2 separate regions of the Homo sapiens genome follow, and region 1 is linked to region 2. A link means that fine-mapping ties the variant in region 2 to the expression of a gene that starts in the linked region. Tissue or cell type: whole blood. Region 2 holds a variant in brackets; the other region holds the start of a gene. All regions are shown on one strand. Distances are from middle to middle.

The links. PIP is the estimated chance that this variant, and not a neighbour inherited with it, causes the effect.
Region 1: it holds the start of SH3TC1, and the variant in region 2 is fine-mapped to the expression of SH3TC1 in whole blood (TOPMed, PIP above 0.99).

What each region holds. Positions count from the first base shown.
Region 1 is chr4:8,197,175-8,202,174 of GRCh38, reverse strand. SH3TC1 (SH3 domain and tetratricopeptide repeats 1) reads right to left here and starts at 2,885. Exons shown (of 18, transcript NM_018986.5): 1 at 2,770-2,885. RefSeq lists enhancers at 599-808, 1,539-1,688, 1,819-1,868, 1,999-2,048, 3,079-3,198 and 1 more and a silencer at 2,679-2,868.
Region 2 is chr4:8,236,925-8,247,964 of GRCh38, reverse strand. It overlaps SH3TC1 (SH3 domain and tetratricopeptide repeats 1), which reads right to left. Exons shown (of 18, transcript NM_018986.5): 17 at 10,295-10,491; 18 at 6,862-7,267. The coding sequence ends at 7,010. Among named protein-coding and RNA genes, the nearest start is that of HTRA3, 27 kb to the left of the region's middle. RefSeq lists enhancers at 2,820-3,321, 5,344-5,905, 8,375-9,233, 9,234-10,094 and silencers at 5,498-5,627, 9,448-9,497. The variant A/G (reference allele first, on the strand shown) is at 6,856.

The DNA of each region.
Region 1 (5,000 bases), 43 kb after region 2:
GCTGCCTGTGCCCACCACCTGGCCCTGAGTCTGTGGCAGCACCAGGAAGCCCCTGCCTGCAAGGCCAGGCTGTCTTCCCATCTCCTCTCCGGAAGCACATGGAGGCGTCTCAACAAAGCGCTGGAATCCACTCCCTGGGCATGCGAGCTCCCTGGTTTAAGGGGTCTTTCGCTCCGAACGCCTGACCTTGGAGTCCTTGTCCTCCCATCTCTGCCTTTTTGTCCCTCAGAAGCTGGGTCTTATGTCCCTATAGGCAGAGCAGGAGTCCCAGCAGCCTCTCTCCATCCACTGGCTGATGCCCGGGACACCTGCCTGCCTCCCAGCCCACCACCTCCCCCTGGGTTAGGAACAGGCCTGTTCGAAACGGCATCCAGGGCTTCTCCGGGCCTGGCACACAGCTGGTACTCAGAGACTGTCTTCTGAGAAAAGGAGGGCTCCCCAGGCTCAGGGAATTTCCCACCTGCTGTTATAACCCTAAGCGTGGGATTCCTGTGCAGAGCCTGGCGATGAGGAAGTGAGCTCCTTCTCCACAGCGTCCCCTCCCTCAGCCCTGCAGGCCCAGCCACCACTGCACAAGCAGAGGCCCCAACCACGGGCAGGTGTTGACGCCCCCAGGGGCCAGCTCACCCAGCTGGGGGACCACCAAGCAGCCTGCAGGACTCTCTCCTTCCTGCCTTCATCCTGTTTGTTCAGTTTATCATCAGGACAAACCCTTGGGGGGCCCTGGATGGGTCAGAACAGGCTCCAGCCCCAGGCCAGCCTCCAGCCCCGGGGGAAGGGGTGGAGTTTGGCTCCAGAACACGGAGACGTGGGGCCAAACCCCGGTGTCTGGGAGGCCTCTCCATGCCTCAATTTACTGAGCCAGAAAATGAGAATGAGCACGCACACCGCACAAGTGGGTCGAGTGGGTTAAAGGGACAGTGCTCCTGGTCCACAGTCAGAGTTTGGTGAATGTGGGTTGGAAGAAGAAGGGAGAGGGCCGCGGCCAGCCCTGAATGGGTTTGGGAAGCTTTGGCCAAGCTTTCGCCAGGCTCTTACGGAACAAATACTTCTAGGGCCATTGAGACCTCACCTATGCCACCAAGCACCTCCGGAGGGTTGGCTTGTCACCTCGCATCCTGGGGTGACACTGTCCTTTCAAAATTCATGCCCCCAGAAACCTCAGAATGGGGCCTTATTTGGAAATGGTCTGCGCAGATGAAGCGACCTTCCCTTGGGATGAGGGTGTTCCAGATGAGGATGGCCCTAAATCCAGTGCGTGGTGTCCTTGTAAGTAAAAGAGAGGACACGGAGACACACAGAGGAGCCGGGCAGGAGGCCATGTGACCACCAGGGCGGAGAGTGGACTGATGTAATCACAGCCAAGGAGCGCCCTGAGCCACAGGCAGCGGGAAGAGGCAGGGAGGAGCCGCCCAGTAGCCTTCTGAGGGACGCCTTGAGTTCGGAATTCCGACCTCCAGAGCCGCGAGAGAACACGACCGAGAGGGCTGTGTCCTGCGCTCTGGCAGCAGGGGAAACCGGCGCACCCGTGCGCTGCTGGGCCCTGCCTTGCTCTTCTGTGTTGTGCGGCCATCGTCACCCGTGTTGCTGGAAGAGTGAGTGACGTCTCCATGCAAAAAACGCTGGCCCAGCGCCCCACACGGGACACAGTTGTCATCACTGTCAACAACAGTGTTGACAGTCACATAATTATGGCCATCCAGGGTGCTCACAGCATCCTCGGCTCACCTGGAGGAGGGAGGCACAGCTGTGCCCCTTTCACGGATGAGCCATCAGCTGCGGTGACTCTGCCTGCCCAAGGTCACACAGCCAAGCAGCACAGGTGGGGTTGAACCCAGGTGGTCAGAGCCCAGCCCCCACATACCCATCCTAAACCCAGACCTGACTCGGGCCCAGCCTTGCCTCCAGCCACAAGCTCAGCCGCAGCCCCGCTGCCTGGCGCTGGGAGGCCACACCCTGAGTGGCCGGCCCACATGCAGGCTGCCCCTGGCCCTGGCACTGGCCGACACCGCTAACACCCCCCAGCGTCACTTTGCTATTCATCTCATCTGAGCCTCGTCAACGGCAAAAGGTTGGAAACTCCCGCTTCACAGACAGGGCAGGGCTCCCAGGGCTCCTGGGGATCACGCACAGGCCCAGAGGGGGTCTCAGTGGTGTACACACACAGGAGCACACGCCCCGGCACACCTGCAGTTGAAGGCTGGGCCCAGACCCTCCCTGGAATTTTCAGGCTGAAGCCCCTGGTCCAGTTGCTGGTCCATTTGGTTGTTGGAAAAGAGGCCCAGGTGGCGGCATCAGAGTGGCCAGTTATAGCCACTGCGGTGCCGGGTGAGGCTGAGGCGCTGGGCTCGCCCTGGTAGGTCTGGTAGTGTGGCCCAAGCTAACCGGGCGCTGGGGTCACACCTGAGATCCGCTGGACTTGGAATCCAGCGACAGGCTGGCTCTGCTCCCAGACCCCCAGGGCCGCTCATGCCAAGGGCCAGCACGGGGTCAGGCCAGGTCCCAGAAGCAAGGGTGCTTGGTCAAAGCTGAAATCATTGCCCTCAATCACTGCGGATTGGCACTGCCAGCACCTGTGAGCTCTGAGTGGGGTCTGCTGAGGGTGCCGACGACCTCCCCGAGGCCCCCAGCTCGCAGTTTCGCTCCACCCCCATCCCAAACAGGTCAGAAAAGTCCTCAAGAAAGTGTAAAGATCCAACCATGGCAAGACTGGCAGACAGCAGCCTGCTCGGCCAGTCCACGCCCCGCCTGCCCCGGAGCCCCCCATACCTGCGGCGTGTTCCTCAGAGGCAGCTCCCAGGCCCACAGGGCCGTAGCACGCAGGAACCAGGTGGCCGCTCCTGGCCCAGCGCTGGCTGGCCCCACGGGGCTGTCTCCAGCTGGACGGAGCAGGCAGGGGCCGCCCACAGCCAGGCTGACTGCACAGCGGCCTCCGCCCCCTGCTTCCTGCCCTACTTCCTCCCTGCGCCTGAGGGCCGGTGACGGAGAGGCAGGCCCAGGGCGGCTGCACAGACACCGCAGCCGGTTGATCATTAGCTCTTTCCTGGACGAGGTCCAGGCCCTGTCCTGCCTGCCCGCTGCCCAGCCCCCAGGCTCTGTAGTAGAGGCTAGGGGCACCCAGTCCCCCGCCAGGCTGGGATTGGGGAAGTCCACCAGCCACCGGCTGCCTCAGCCCTGCCAGCCTCAGCTCTGATCTCTGTTCCTCTTCCATTTACTGCACACACACACACACGCATGCCTGCACACATACATGCATGCACACACACACGCATGTGCATGCAGACACACATACATATGCATGGGCACACAGAGACTCACAAGCACAAGTGTGTGCACACATGGACAGGCACACGTATGCACACAAACGCTCACGTGCAATTTCTTCCGTCTCTGCCCGGGTGCCCTCCGGGCCACTGGCTCCATCAATGGGAACATTTAGGGGAAGAGATGGGCTCCCCTCCTCCTCACCGCAAGCTCTCCTTGCTAGCCTGGCCTGTCCCAACGGGTCTACCTCTTTACCCTCCCACCGTCTCCAGGCCTGAGCCAGGTTTGAGAGCAGAAACCTTCCCAGCCAGGCAGACCCAAGGCCAAAGCACGTAATCTCGCCCCTGCCTGCTGAGGAAGCCTGGCCTGGGCTCACGTCAGCTGGGACAAGAGGCAGAACTGAACTCAAATTGCCCTGTTGGTCCCGCCTGTCTGCCTGCTCTGATGCCCTTGCCAACACAGGAGTGTGAGCACCCACGTGGTGGGTGTGGGCTGCGGGCTCCGGCCCAGCTCTAGGAAGTGGGAATGGGAGGGATCCCTCCAGCCTGTGCTGTGATAGGTCGGAGCTTTACACACACCTGGTTTGAGAAAACCAAGAATAATCCCTAAGTCAAATAGTTATGTATCCATCTCACAGACAGGAAAACTAAGGCTCAGGGAGGTAATGTGACATGCCCAAGGCCAGTGACCAACAAGAAGATAAGACTGGAACCAGGTCTGACTGGTTCTGAAGGCTTTAGGGCTGGGCTTTTCAACCAAGGCACTACCGACATTTGGGGCCGCATCCTTCTTTGTTGCAGGGCGGGGGGCTGTCCTGTGCACTGGAGGGTTTTAGCTGGTCCCTGGCCTCCACCCACTGGATGCCAGTAGCCCCCTCCTCTAATCATAGCAGCCAAACATAGCTCAGATATTGATCCCCTGGGGGTGAAGTCACCCCAGGCTGAGAACTCCCAGCCCAGGTGAGCTACTCAGGTCAAAGCCCCTCCAGCCCACACCTGCGTCCTTCATCCTCGCCCTCCCGTCCTGTTCACCTTTCTCTAATCACAGGCTCTGCCCAGGGGCTGACGCTTACCTCAAGTCCCTGCATCCTGCACGGTGAGCCCTCAAGTCACACCCTCCCTCCGCCCCACTGAGGCCAGGGCCCGGGATCGGGGGTGCAGCTGCAGATGCCCTAGGCATGCCCCTCGCTGCCCTGAAAAGAACTCGAGGATGGCCCAGGTGAGGCCCAAGCCCCTTAGGGGCCCAGCCTCCAGGCTCCCCGGCCCGGCCTGGCCAGGCCCCACCTTCCATGCCATCAACATGCTCAGTGAGCACACGGTGGGTTGGAGGGTTCAGAGGCACCAAAGGACACTTTGAGAGAATCCCCAGTGGCAGCAATCTGAAAGTCTGACCCACAGGCAGAGGGGCCGCAGCTCCCAGACCAGCTCTTCTTCCCTGCGGGGACACGGCTCCCCAGCCCCGGCTGCGTCTGAGGAGGAAGATGGTGTTCTCTCTGGCCTCGTCGAGGGGCAGTCACTCTATCAGTTTCATGGGGCTGCCACAACTGTGTGCCACAAACTGGGGTCTCCAGACAGCAGAAATGTCATCTCTTACAGTTCTGGAGGCCAAAAGTCCAAAATCAAGCTGTCGGAAGGGCCATGCTCCCTCCAGAAGCTCCAGGGGAGGCCTCTTCCTGCCTGCTCCAGCCTCTGGGGCTCCAGGTATGCTCCGGCTAGAGGTGGCATCGCTCCAGTCTT
Region 2 (11,040 bases):
CCATAAGGCTGAAGGCTGAGCTCACAGTGGTCCCAGGGCCTCCTTCCCTCCAGGGCACTTCCCCCGGCACAGGGAGGGCTGTCCCAGAGCATGTGGGATCCATGTGGGAAGGTAACATCACTCCTCCTCCGTCACCATGGCCCATCCCGGGTGGGGCCCCCGAAGCTTGTGCTGGAAACAAGGCTTAGGTCAGAACCAGCCCAGCTTTGCACTCTGCCCTGGATCCAGGCCCTGTCGGGAACGGGTGTGTTCACAGGGCCCGGCAGTGTGAGCCGTGACCACACAGCGGGGTCCTCCCTGCTGGCCTGGAGATAGCCAGTCTGCTGTGCGTTCCTGCATAGGAGGTGGGGATGCACACAGGGGCTCCCCTTTGGGGCCGACAAGGGTCAGGAGGTGAAGGGAGAGGCTTGCCCCTGGGCCTCTTGGAGTCCCTGAGGCTCTGGGGACAGGGCAAGGGGACTGGCACCGGCTATCCTCCCCAGAGGGGCTGGGCCTGGCCTGAAGCCTGGGGTGCTGGCATTGTGAAACTGCCTCCCCTCTCAGACTTCTCTGGAAACCCAGCCCTCCCCATGCGGATGAGTCCCCAGAGGTCTCCTCATCCTGCAGTCTGGGCTTATCGGAGCCGTCACAGACGAGGAGCTGCCGTGTTTGCTATGGGAGGGACGAGGTCGGCCCTGCTTCCTGGAGACCTCCTGGCCCTGGAATTCTCTTTTCCTGGGATGCCGCACAGACCCAGGCCAAAGTGGCCGGGGTTGTGAAATCCTGTGTTTGGCTCTGGCGGGTTACCGAGGGCTGGCCTGGTGAGCACGGCAGCGGACGAACAGGGTCCAGGACAGGAGGCCGTGCTCGCAGGACGCCCACGCCAGGGCTCAGGACGTGTGCCCTGTGCTCTGCAGAGAAGGCCACCTGAAGCCCAGGCTGTCCTGGGGTCACACAGCTGGGTGGAGGGTGGAGGCCAGGGGTCCCAACACCTGCCCCCCTGCTCCCCGATGGAAGGTCATTACTGTGAGTTGTCCAGGGTCTTGGCATGTTGAACAAAACGCACAAAGCAACAAGAGAAGCAACAAGAGACCAAGCAACAGAAGAACGGAGCAACCAAAACACATTTCCTGAAGAAGCAAAAGTGCAATTCACAGAGTGGGAGCGGCTCTAGCAAGCGGCTTGAGGGCCCCTCAATTCACGTGTTTATTAAGCTAAAGAACTTGGCAACACCCCTGGGTGCCCTCGAGAGGCCCCCAGTTGGCTACGCCCTATGAAGGACTGGCCCGCAGTCCATCAGAGGTGAAGTGGACACTTGGCCCGCGGTCCATCAGAGGTGAAGTGGACACTTGGCCCGCGGTCCATCAGAGGTGAAGTGGACACTTGGCCCGCGGTCCATCAGAGGCTGCGGTAGAAATTTCTGTGTTGTTATCGCAGAAGCGAGGATGTGGCCTGGGTGCCGCCCAGTCCTGCCTAGAACCAGCTGCCCCTGCAGTTCTCTGGCTTACTCTAACTGGCCGCACCTGCTATTCCTTTGCTCATGCCCCAGCCCTTGGCTACCCCAATTCCCCATTCTCCTGCCTTACTCCTCCTTCTCCCTTCTTCCTTAATTCCTGGTGTGGGAGCTGAACGTGAAGACCTCAGTTTGAGGAGTGGACCTGCTGGTACAGGTAAGTGGGCAGGCGAGGAGGCGACCTCGGGAAGGGCTGCCTGGCTACCGCCCACCATGAGTCCTTCAGGGCTGGAGGGATGCCTGGGGCTCGGCCTCCCCATTCCTAGGCTTGGCCTTGTATTTGCTATCTATGCTGTGTACCAAATTATCACAAATTCAGCAGCCTAAAGCAACGCCCCTTTCTTGGGTTGCTTCTTGCATCAGAAGCCTCATGTGATTCTCTGCCCAGGGTCACCACAAACTGTAATTGAGGTGCCAGCTGGGCTGTGATCTCCCCCACGATTCAGCGTCCTTCCAAATTCACGTGGTTGTTGGCAGAATTCAGCTCCGTGCCATTGTAGGTCTGGGGTCCCGTGTGCTTGAGGGCTGCCAGCTGGGGACCGTTGAGCTCCTAGAGAGCCTGCAGCCCCTACTGGGCCGGCCTCTCTGTGGGGAGCCCACTGTTTACTGTGCTGTGCAGCCTGGAAGCTGTTTACTTCCAGGCCAGTAGGAGAATCAGAGAAGGCTGAACCCTCTTACACAGGACTCACTTGATTAGGCGAAGCCCATCTGCAATCATCTTCCTTTGAATAACTCCAAGTCAACTGATTAGAGACCTTAATTACATCTGCAGACCTCTTCACCCTTCCCACGTACTGCAACCTACTTGCAGAAGTGATAATCCTATCACAGCCCAGACTCACCTGTGCTGAAGAGGAAGGAGGCACGCAGAGTCAGTTTAGAATTCCGCCTGCCTGCACTTCCATCTGGGGGGAGGCATATTATTCTTTTCGCTGTGTTTTTCCATCAACCCTGGAGGACCTGACAAGCCCTGGAAAATGTGCTAAATGTTTCCTACGATGCTGTTGATCTTCATAGTAGCTCAGCAAGGTACATCTCATTGCCCCATTTTATAGCTGAGAAAACTGAGGCTCGCAGAGGGGCAAGGCATACGAACGGGAGCCCACTGCCCGGTGCTCTGGGTCAGGGCGAGTCAGAGAGAGGCAGAGCCTGGACTCAAGCCTGCTTCCTGCCCCTGAGCTTGCATAGACCCCACCCTGCTGCCGGTGCACAGGTCTCGCCAGCTGCCCGGCCTAAGACCCACAGCCTGCTCCCCAGGCCGGGCGCTGGACACAGGGCGTGTGAGTTGACTGCGGCCAAGCTCCCTGGAAACACAGTCTGGATCACTGATGGCGCCAACTGGAGTCCAAGGGCACCTTTATGCCCAAACAGTGTCACCCGGACACACTTCTCCACTCACGTGGGAGACCCTTGTGGCCTGCTTGAACCCCTCTGCAGACGGGGAGCTCACTTCTGCCTGAGGTGGCCTCTCCCATCTCCGGAGAACCCTGCTCAGGAGAGAGTTTGGCCTCACGCTGGGCCGTAAACCACCTCCTCTCAACTCCTGGGCTCCGTGGCGAAGGTAAGGCTGATGTAGACTTGCTGGGCACCCTTGGAATGGTGGCCTGTATGCTGCCCAATCCTGCCTAGAACTGGGTGGCCCTGCTGTTCCCTTGTGTGGAGATGGTGCTCTCTCCATTCAAGGGAACAGCAGCAGGTCAGCCAGTTCCCTTGGGATGCTGATCATTCCATACCCTTAGGATGGTGACCCTCCCTCTCTGAGCCTCGGCTCCCTCATCCAAAATGAGGGTCCAACTTGGACTCGGCCGATATTTACCCCTGGAGGAACCAGTACAGGGAAGGATGTGGGCTCCAGGAGAGTGCAGGCGGCTGTGCTGGGCGGAGCTCCCTTGCCTCTGAGTCAGGAGAGGGGGCTGTGTGACCTTGGGCAAGGCTCTTTCCATCTCTGTTCAGGGGAGAGTCTCCAGGGACCCCAACAAGGAGTGTGATTTCAGCTGCAGTCCCAGGAGCACCTCTGGGAGGGCCTGGAACACTCCTGGAGTTCCCTGCACCTGCCTGAGGCAGTTTCTGCAGCCCATGCAGTGGGCGCTTGCTGAATGTGTGTGGGAAGGTGACTGAGTTAACCTGGGGATCATGGCCGCCTCCTTCTAAAATTGGGGCAGCTGGCTTCTGGGCTGCGAGACCACTGGCTGCGTAGAGCTGGGCACGTGCCCACTGGACATCTCTTCATCTCATGCCTACTTTGCTGAAGGGGGTTGTTGTTGCGGCGGTTGTTGCCCGGGAACCAGCCTCCGACGGGCAGAGCAGGGCTGGAGACCAGTGGGCTTAGGCCTTAGCCAGCCGAGCCCTGACCTCCACCCACCACAGAACAACGGGACTGGCTGCCTGGTTCTGCACACCAACTCTGTGCCCCTCGTTTCCCATGCATTCTCTCCTCACTCTTGGAACCTTGGGGTAGGCTTTGTCTTTGGTGACAGATGAAGAGACGAAGGGTCTGAGAGGTTAAGCAAGTTTGTTACTGGAAAGGGGTCCCGACCCAGACCCCAAGAGAGGGTTCTTGGATCTCACAGAAGAAAGAATTCGGGGCGAGTCCATAAAGTGAAAGCAAGTTTATTAGGAAAGAAAAGGAATAAAAGAATGGCTACTCTGGCCAGGCACAGTGGCTCACTCCTGTAATCCCATAACTTTGGGATGCCGAGGCAGGTGGATCACCTGAGGTGAGGAGTTCGAGACCAGCCTGGTCCGACACGGCAAAACCCTGTCTCTACTAAAATACAAAAAATTAGCTGGGCGTGGTGGCGGGTTCCTGTAATCCCAGCTACTAGAAAGGCTGAGGCAGGAGAATTGCTTGAACCTGGGAGGCGGAGGTTGTAGTGAGCCGACATCACGCTACTGCACTGCAGCCTGGGCAACAGAGCGAGACTCCATTTCAAAAAAAAAAAAAAAAGAATGGCTACTCCATAGGCAGAGCGGCCCCAAAGGCTGCTGGTTGCCCATTTTCATGGTTATTTCTTGATCATATGCTAAACAAGGGGTGAACTATTCATGAGTTTTCCAGGAAAAGGGTGGGCAATTCCCAGAACTGAGAGTTTCTCCCCTCCCTTTTGAGACCTTATAAGGTAACCTCCAGACGTTGTCATGGCATCTGTAAACTGTCATGGTGCTGGTGGGGGTGTCTTTTAGCAGCTAATGCATTCTAATTAGCATATAATGAGCCGTGAGGACAATCAGAGGTCACTCTCGTGGCCACCTTGGGTTTGGTGGGCTTTGGCCGGCTTCTTTACTGCAAACTGCTTTATCAGCAAGGTCTTCATGACCTGTATCTTGTGCGACCTCCTATCTCATCCTGGGACTAAGAATGCCTAACCTCCTGGGAATGCAGCCCGGCAGGTCTCAGCCTCACTTTACCCAGCCCCCATTCAAGATGGAGCTGCTCTGGTTCACATGTCTCTGACAAGTTGACCTGGGTTGAGTGTTCCATAGCGTGTGGTTGTTGGAGCTTTTCTTAGGAGTAAGAAGTATTGTTAGTAGGAAACAGGCCTCTATTGGCCCTGGGGCTGGCACTCTGCCCCAGTATGTCAGTCTCATTTTAGTGGTGACCAAACTGGGGCTCAGAGAAATCAACTCCCTCACCCCGAACCCCCAGACTGTGAGTGGTGGGCTGGGGTTTGAATGTGGGGCTTGAAGACCCACCGTTTCCTCTGGTCCCCCATGCTCTGCTGCCCGAGAGGAACAGGATCCCAGGATCCAGGCCCCTGATGGCACCAGCCAGGGTGGGTGGAAATGGGGAGGCACAGTCCCAAAGCCCCCAGGACTCTGAGGCAGGTCGGGGGCTGAGAGCAACCCGGAACTGCAGACCCCACCCCGAGAGGAATGGCTGCAGGCCCGGCCCGGCAGGCAGGAGGTCTGTGTCCTCAGTGACCGTGACGACGCTTCCCGCTGCTCCAGCCAGGCCGTGCCGTCTTCATGTTTCCAATCATGCGGCCTCCTCTCCAATTCCCAAGCCCAACCCACAGAGACAGCGGTCTGGGGTCAACATGAGGTTTGTCAGCAGCTCTGAGCCACTGCTTCCCTCCAGCCCCGCGGCGGGTTCTGGAAAGCTCTCTGCTGCCCCCTGGTGGGGAAGCTCGGGGCGGGGCAGGGCTCCGGCGGCAAGCATGGGGCTCCCCTGTAGCGCTCCCAGACCCTCCTGGCTCTGCCACCTCTGCTGGGTGGAAAACCAACCCAGGCCTGGACCAGCAGTGGGTGCCTGATTCCTTATTATCAGAGCTCCGCTCACTGGCAAGTCCCTCTTCGGACCCCAGGAGAGGGGCTTGGGGGATACCAAGGAGGGGTAACTGCTTAATGAGGACGGGAGGTTTCTTCTGGGGAGATGAATGCCTTTTGAAACTAGACGGTGTGGGTGGGTGCACAGCACTGTGAGTGCACAAATGCCACCACATTATTCACGTTGAAATAGTTAATTTCATGCGATGTGAATGTCACCTCATTTTAAAAGTGTTTAAAAGAGGGGCCTGGGAGAGTGCAGTGTTTGTGAGAATCACGTGGGGCACCCACAATCTCTGAACCTCGGTTTCCTTGCCGTAAACTGGCGAAGAGACCGTGTGAGCCGTGTTTCCTGGGGCCAAGAGATTCCAAGAAGGAAAACCTGGGATTCCTGGGGACTGAGATGAGGGCCGGGGGCCGGAAGGGGAGGGGTACATGGGGAGGGCTGAGGGGCAGCCCAGAAAAGGCTTTCAACACTGGGCAGCAGCGTCTACACAGGCAGAGATCCCTGCATCTCACTTCCCACAGGACTGACCAGTGGCTGGAGGTGGGACTGGTCAGGCTCAGCCCAGCCAAGTCTGGGACCAGAGGACACTTAGTGGGGGATCCCCTGGGCCACCCTCACCGCCCTGTGGCTCTCCTGACACCACAAGAGAGGTGCAGGAACTGACCTTGGGTCCTAATGGGGGCACCTTCCTGGCAGCAGGCCGGCAGGGTGGTGTGGTCAGCGCACTGGGCTCTGCGTCTGTGTGATGGTGGGCCAGACAGTTAACCTCTCTGTGTCTCTATTTCTTCACTGGCGAATGGGGGCACTAGCAGCCCCCACCTCCGCGCACAGTGGCCTGAGGATTAAAGGCAAGGGTGGCACAAGACCTACGGCAAAAGCTCCGAGCAGCTGCCCAGGGAGTTCCACCACCGTCTCCCCTCTGGCCGCCAACGAAACCCAGGCTCATGGTGACCTGGCACAGGTCTGTTGGACTCGGGGTCCTTCTCATACCCAAGATCAGGACATAGCAGCAGGGCTGCCCCCAGGGAAGGGAGCTGGCCCCTAGACACGCCCCAGGAAGCATACTAGGGAAGGATGCCCTGCTGACTTC[A/G]ATAAGTTATTGCAAAAAAAAAACAAAACCCATTTATTGCTATTTGGCCCCTGCGTTCGTGCCTCCATTTGCCAGAAAATGAGCCACCGGCGACACCAGGAGAGGCAGGAGACCCCCAGCCCTTGCACAAAACCCACTCCCTTGGATGCTGTCCTCAGCGAGGGTGGCTGGGGGCCAACCAGGGGGCCCACCCGCAGAGTGGCAGAGGAGGCAGGTTGACCCTGCGGACGTTGAGCTCTGTGGCGAAGGTCCTGGCCTTCTGGTAGAAGAAGAGCGACTTCTCACGGTCCAGGAGGAAGTTGTGGTAGATGGTGGCCAGCCGCGTGTAGATCTTCAGCTGTGCCTTCTTGTTGCCCAGGTCCACGGCGGCTGCCAGCGCCAGCTGGTAGTACCCGGCTGCATCAAACGGGTCCTGAAGGGGACAGGCCATGCTCAGCAAAAGGGGGACTCGGAGCCAGTCTCCCCAGAGGCCGTTCCTGTGCCCAGGTCATTCCACATGTCCGGCCAATGCTGGCTCACCCCATGAGCCCCGAAGCCTGTGACACTGCTGTGGGCTCAGCTGCAGGAGGTGGAGACGGCCCTGGCACCCCCTGGAAGGATTCCTGATTGTCCCTACACCCCACTCACCCCGAGCCTCCTGTCCCAGCCCCACCCTCTCTGCAGGCAGTGGCTGCTTTCCCCGTGGGCTGAGGTTGGGGCGGATCCTGCCTGCTCTGAGAGTTCCATGCAGGACCCATGGCTCCCAGCCACAGCAGGGGCACAGTGTTGAGTGACCCAGGCTTCCCTCTGGCCCCTGTCCATGCTGACCATTTCCAGGCCCTCCATGGGCCGGGCCAGGTATAAAAGCATCTCCCAGGTGTCCTCTCTGGGAATCTTCCCTGAAATATTGACGGAGTGTGATGCCCCAGACATCCACTCCCATTTTCAATGCATCTGTGGCTCAAACTCACCATCCCTGGGTTGGGATGCCACTTCCCAGACCTCCTCCTTGACCCTCCCATCCCCCACCCAGCTTCTCCCCAGGCACCTCCTCCACATGGGGGTCACCCAAGGGACCTCTCTAAGACCCAAGCTTGGCCCATTCCCCTTTACCATCTCAAGATGGCTCCCAGGGCCAAGGACAAAGTCTAAGATGCAGCAGCCCATGCCCTCACGGCCCCGCCCCACACACAGGGCAGGGGTGCGAGAAGGGCCCGAGTCACATCACTGCTCATCCAACGCCCCCCAGCCCCACCGAACACTGGACTCTGTGCCGGGTGCATGGCTGAGCCTAACGTCCCTGCTCCTCTGGGGGACCTGGGAGTGAACACTGATCACACAGGGTGGCCAGGGCTGTGGCAGAGGCAAGCCCAGGAGCCTGTGGGGGCCCAGGAGGCCCCAGACTCAGCCTGGGGTGGGAGGCAAGGGCTTCCTGAAGCGGGTGGCATCCCAACTAAACAGGAAGGAGCCAGCCAAAGCATATGTGTCTCTGTGTGCATGTGCCTGTGTCCGTGTATGCCTGTGTGTGTGCACGTGCCTGTGTGCGTGTGCCTCTGTGCATTTGCGTGTGCATGTGCCTGTGTGTGTGCATGTCTGTGTGTGTGCCTGTGTGCATGTGCCTGGGTGCATTTGCGTGTGCCTGTGTGTGCCTATGTGTGCATATGCCTGTGTGCATCTGCGTGTGCGTGTCCGTGTGTGTGCATGTGCCTGTGTATTTGTGCATGTGCCTGTGTGTACATGGGGCCTGTGCCTGTGTGTGCGTGTGCCTGTGTGCATTTGCGTGTGCGTGTCCATGTGTGCATGTGTCTCTGTGCCTGTGCCTGTGTGTGCTCATGTGTGCATGTCCATGTGTGTGCATGTGTCTCTGTGTGTGTGTGTGTGTCCCTGTGCGTGCAGCGTGCATGTGCATTTGCATGTGCCTGTAGTGCGTGCAGCAGCTAGTGGGTGGCAGGCTGAGCCAGGACACACCTAATCCACCCTATTCCAGGGCTCACTCTCACATGTAGACTAAAGGGGACCCCATTTTAGAGGCAATCGGCAAAGATGCCCATTTACCCCTGCCTCTCTGCCAGCCTTCCAGGCCCCATCCAAACCGGCTTTCTCTGCCACCTCTCTGGGCCCTGGATCCGGCACCTCTACACAAGGAGGAGGGTGTGGCCTTGGAAAGACAGCAGCCCTGGGGGAATTCCGAGGGGGCCTCCCTGTGGGAAGCTGGCCTGCGCTGACAGCACAGTCACCATGAGGCCCAGAGGGCTGTGCCCCTTGACCCCAGCCATGGACTTTGGCCTCTCAGGGACTACTTCGTCCTTTCCTTCCTCCTGGGTGGGCGGAGTGGGCAGCAGGCATGACTAAGAGAGATAAAGTCCCCTCTGGAAGGCCCGTCCCCTGGGTCCCAGGCCAGCCCCTGAGCAGTGAGCAGCGTCCCTCTGGGCCAGACACCTGGCACTTCCCCGTCTGGCTGGGACTTGGGAGGCCACAGGGACCGCTTCTGACCACCAGGTGTCCCCAGCACCGGGCGGGGGCCTCCCTGGCAGCCCCAGGCCTGCCGCGGGGGATACGGGGCGGGGTCTTAGGGTTGCCGCAGCTCCTCATGTTGTTCTAAGGCCCCCAAGAGCTCAGTCCCTGGACTGGAGCGCCCTGGCCCCCCAGCCCACAACGAGCACCGATGCAGTGCCAGTGTGATGCTGAGTAGGGGCGGGCGCCTGCTGGGCAAGGGGGTGGGGACATCCCAGATCCGAGTCTGCCGGTCCCAGTTCTCCACCCCTGCAGGGCTGGGCGCAGAGGGAGCACAGGTCCCAGCACCTCCTCTCCAGACAGACCCGACCAGCAAGGCCTCAGCCTGGCTGTCTGGGGCCCCGCCCCACTGCACCTGCCCTGAGCTGGGGTTTCCCTGTCTGTGAAGCAGGTGGTAAGACACCGGCCCCGCCCCACCCTGCCTGGGTGATGTGAAGATTCAAGGTGTCTCGGGACTCCAGGAAGGAGTTGCTCAGTGCAGGCTGGCACCCTGGCAGGCTTCCTAGCAGAGGCGCCAGGATTTGGGTTGGATGTTGCAACATGGATTCAATGTGAGGATGATGCCATCCCCCCAAATGTCCTTCTCCCTACCCTGTTTTCTTTGTTAGATACAACTTGACACTTGACTGCCAAGACTCAGCTTTGGTGTCCCCTTCTCCAGGAGGGCCCCCCTGACTACAATCCCCCTTCTTTACCGAGAGGCCACCATTGCCCACTCATGTATCAGCCTCCCTGGCTGAGGCTGAGTTCTTGAGGGTGAGGCCTGGCCGCTCGGGAGCTGGGTTGTGTCTGCTAACCTTGCCAGCTCCTCCAGCCGGGCGCAGCGCTCCAGGGAGGCCACTGGGCCATTCTTAAGGAAGGCTGGAACACATGCCTCAGGGGTCTGGGTGGAGATCCCACTCCAAGGGGGCCGGGAACACCCTGAGCCCAGCCCCTCCCCACCCACCTTCAGGTCGTAGAAGATGATGTCACCGAGCACCAGGTACACCTTCACGTAGTAGAGGGTCTCCTCGTCAAACTCCAGCGGCGAGTTGCAGAGCGACAGGGCCTTGAGGTAGAAGTGCTCTGCCAGCTCGCCATGGCCCAGTCGGTGTTGCAGGGCGGCCAGCCGGTGGTAGGCCACGCGCTCGTTCAGCCGGTCCCCTGGGGTGCAGGCCAAGGGGGCAGGTGTGAGGACGTGGCTCCCCGGGGCAGGCATGCAGACCCCGGCAGCACCTGGCTCGCCTCCAGGCACTGCGGTCACCTGGGCAGTTCTGGCCAGTCCCTTCCCAGCTCCCAGACTCACTTTCCCATCTACAAAGCAGAACTAATAAGGCCTGCCCCCATCTACCGTGAGGCTTTGGCAAAGTCGGACTTGGATGGCCCAGCTCTGTGCCTACATATAGCCACCTGCCTTTGCTCACTGTTTTTAACCAGGAGAGCCCAAAAGGCATGCAGCCCACGCGCTCCTGGGCACCAGGGCTCCAGGCAACCCACAGACATGACATCCAACTCTTCCTGGGTGTGTCATCATCAGAGTCCCCTACCTTGGGGAGTCACTGCGTGCCTGAGCTCCAGGTCCCCCCACAGATGCGCGAGCCCACCCAGGCTGTCTCCGGTGTCCTCCCCTTTTCAGGGTGAGTGCTGTGGAGCCTGCATTCAATGCATTCCCACGCGGCTGCACACCTGTGTACCAGGCCCTGGGCCACAAGG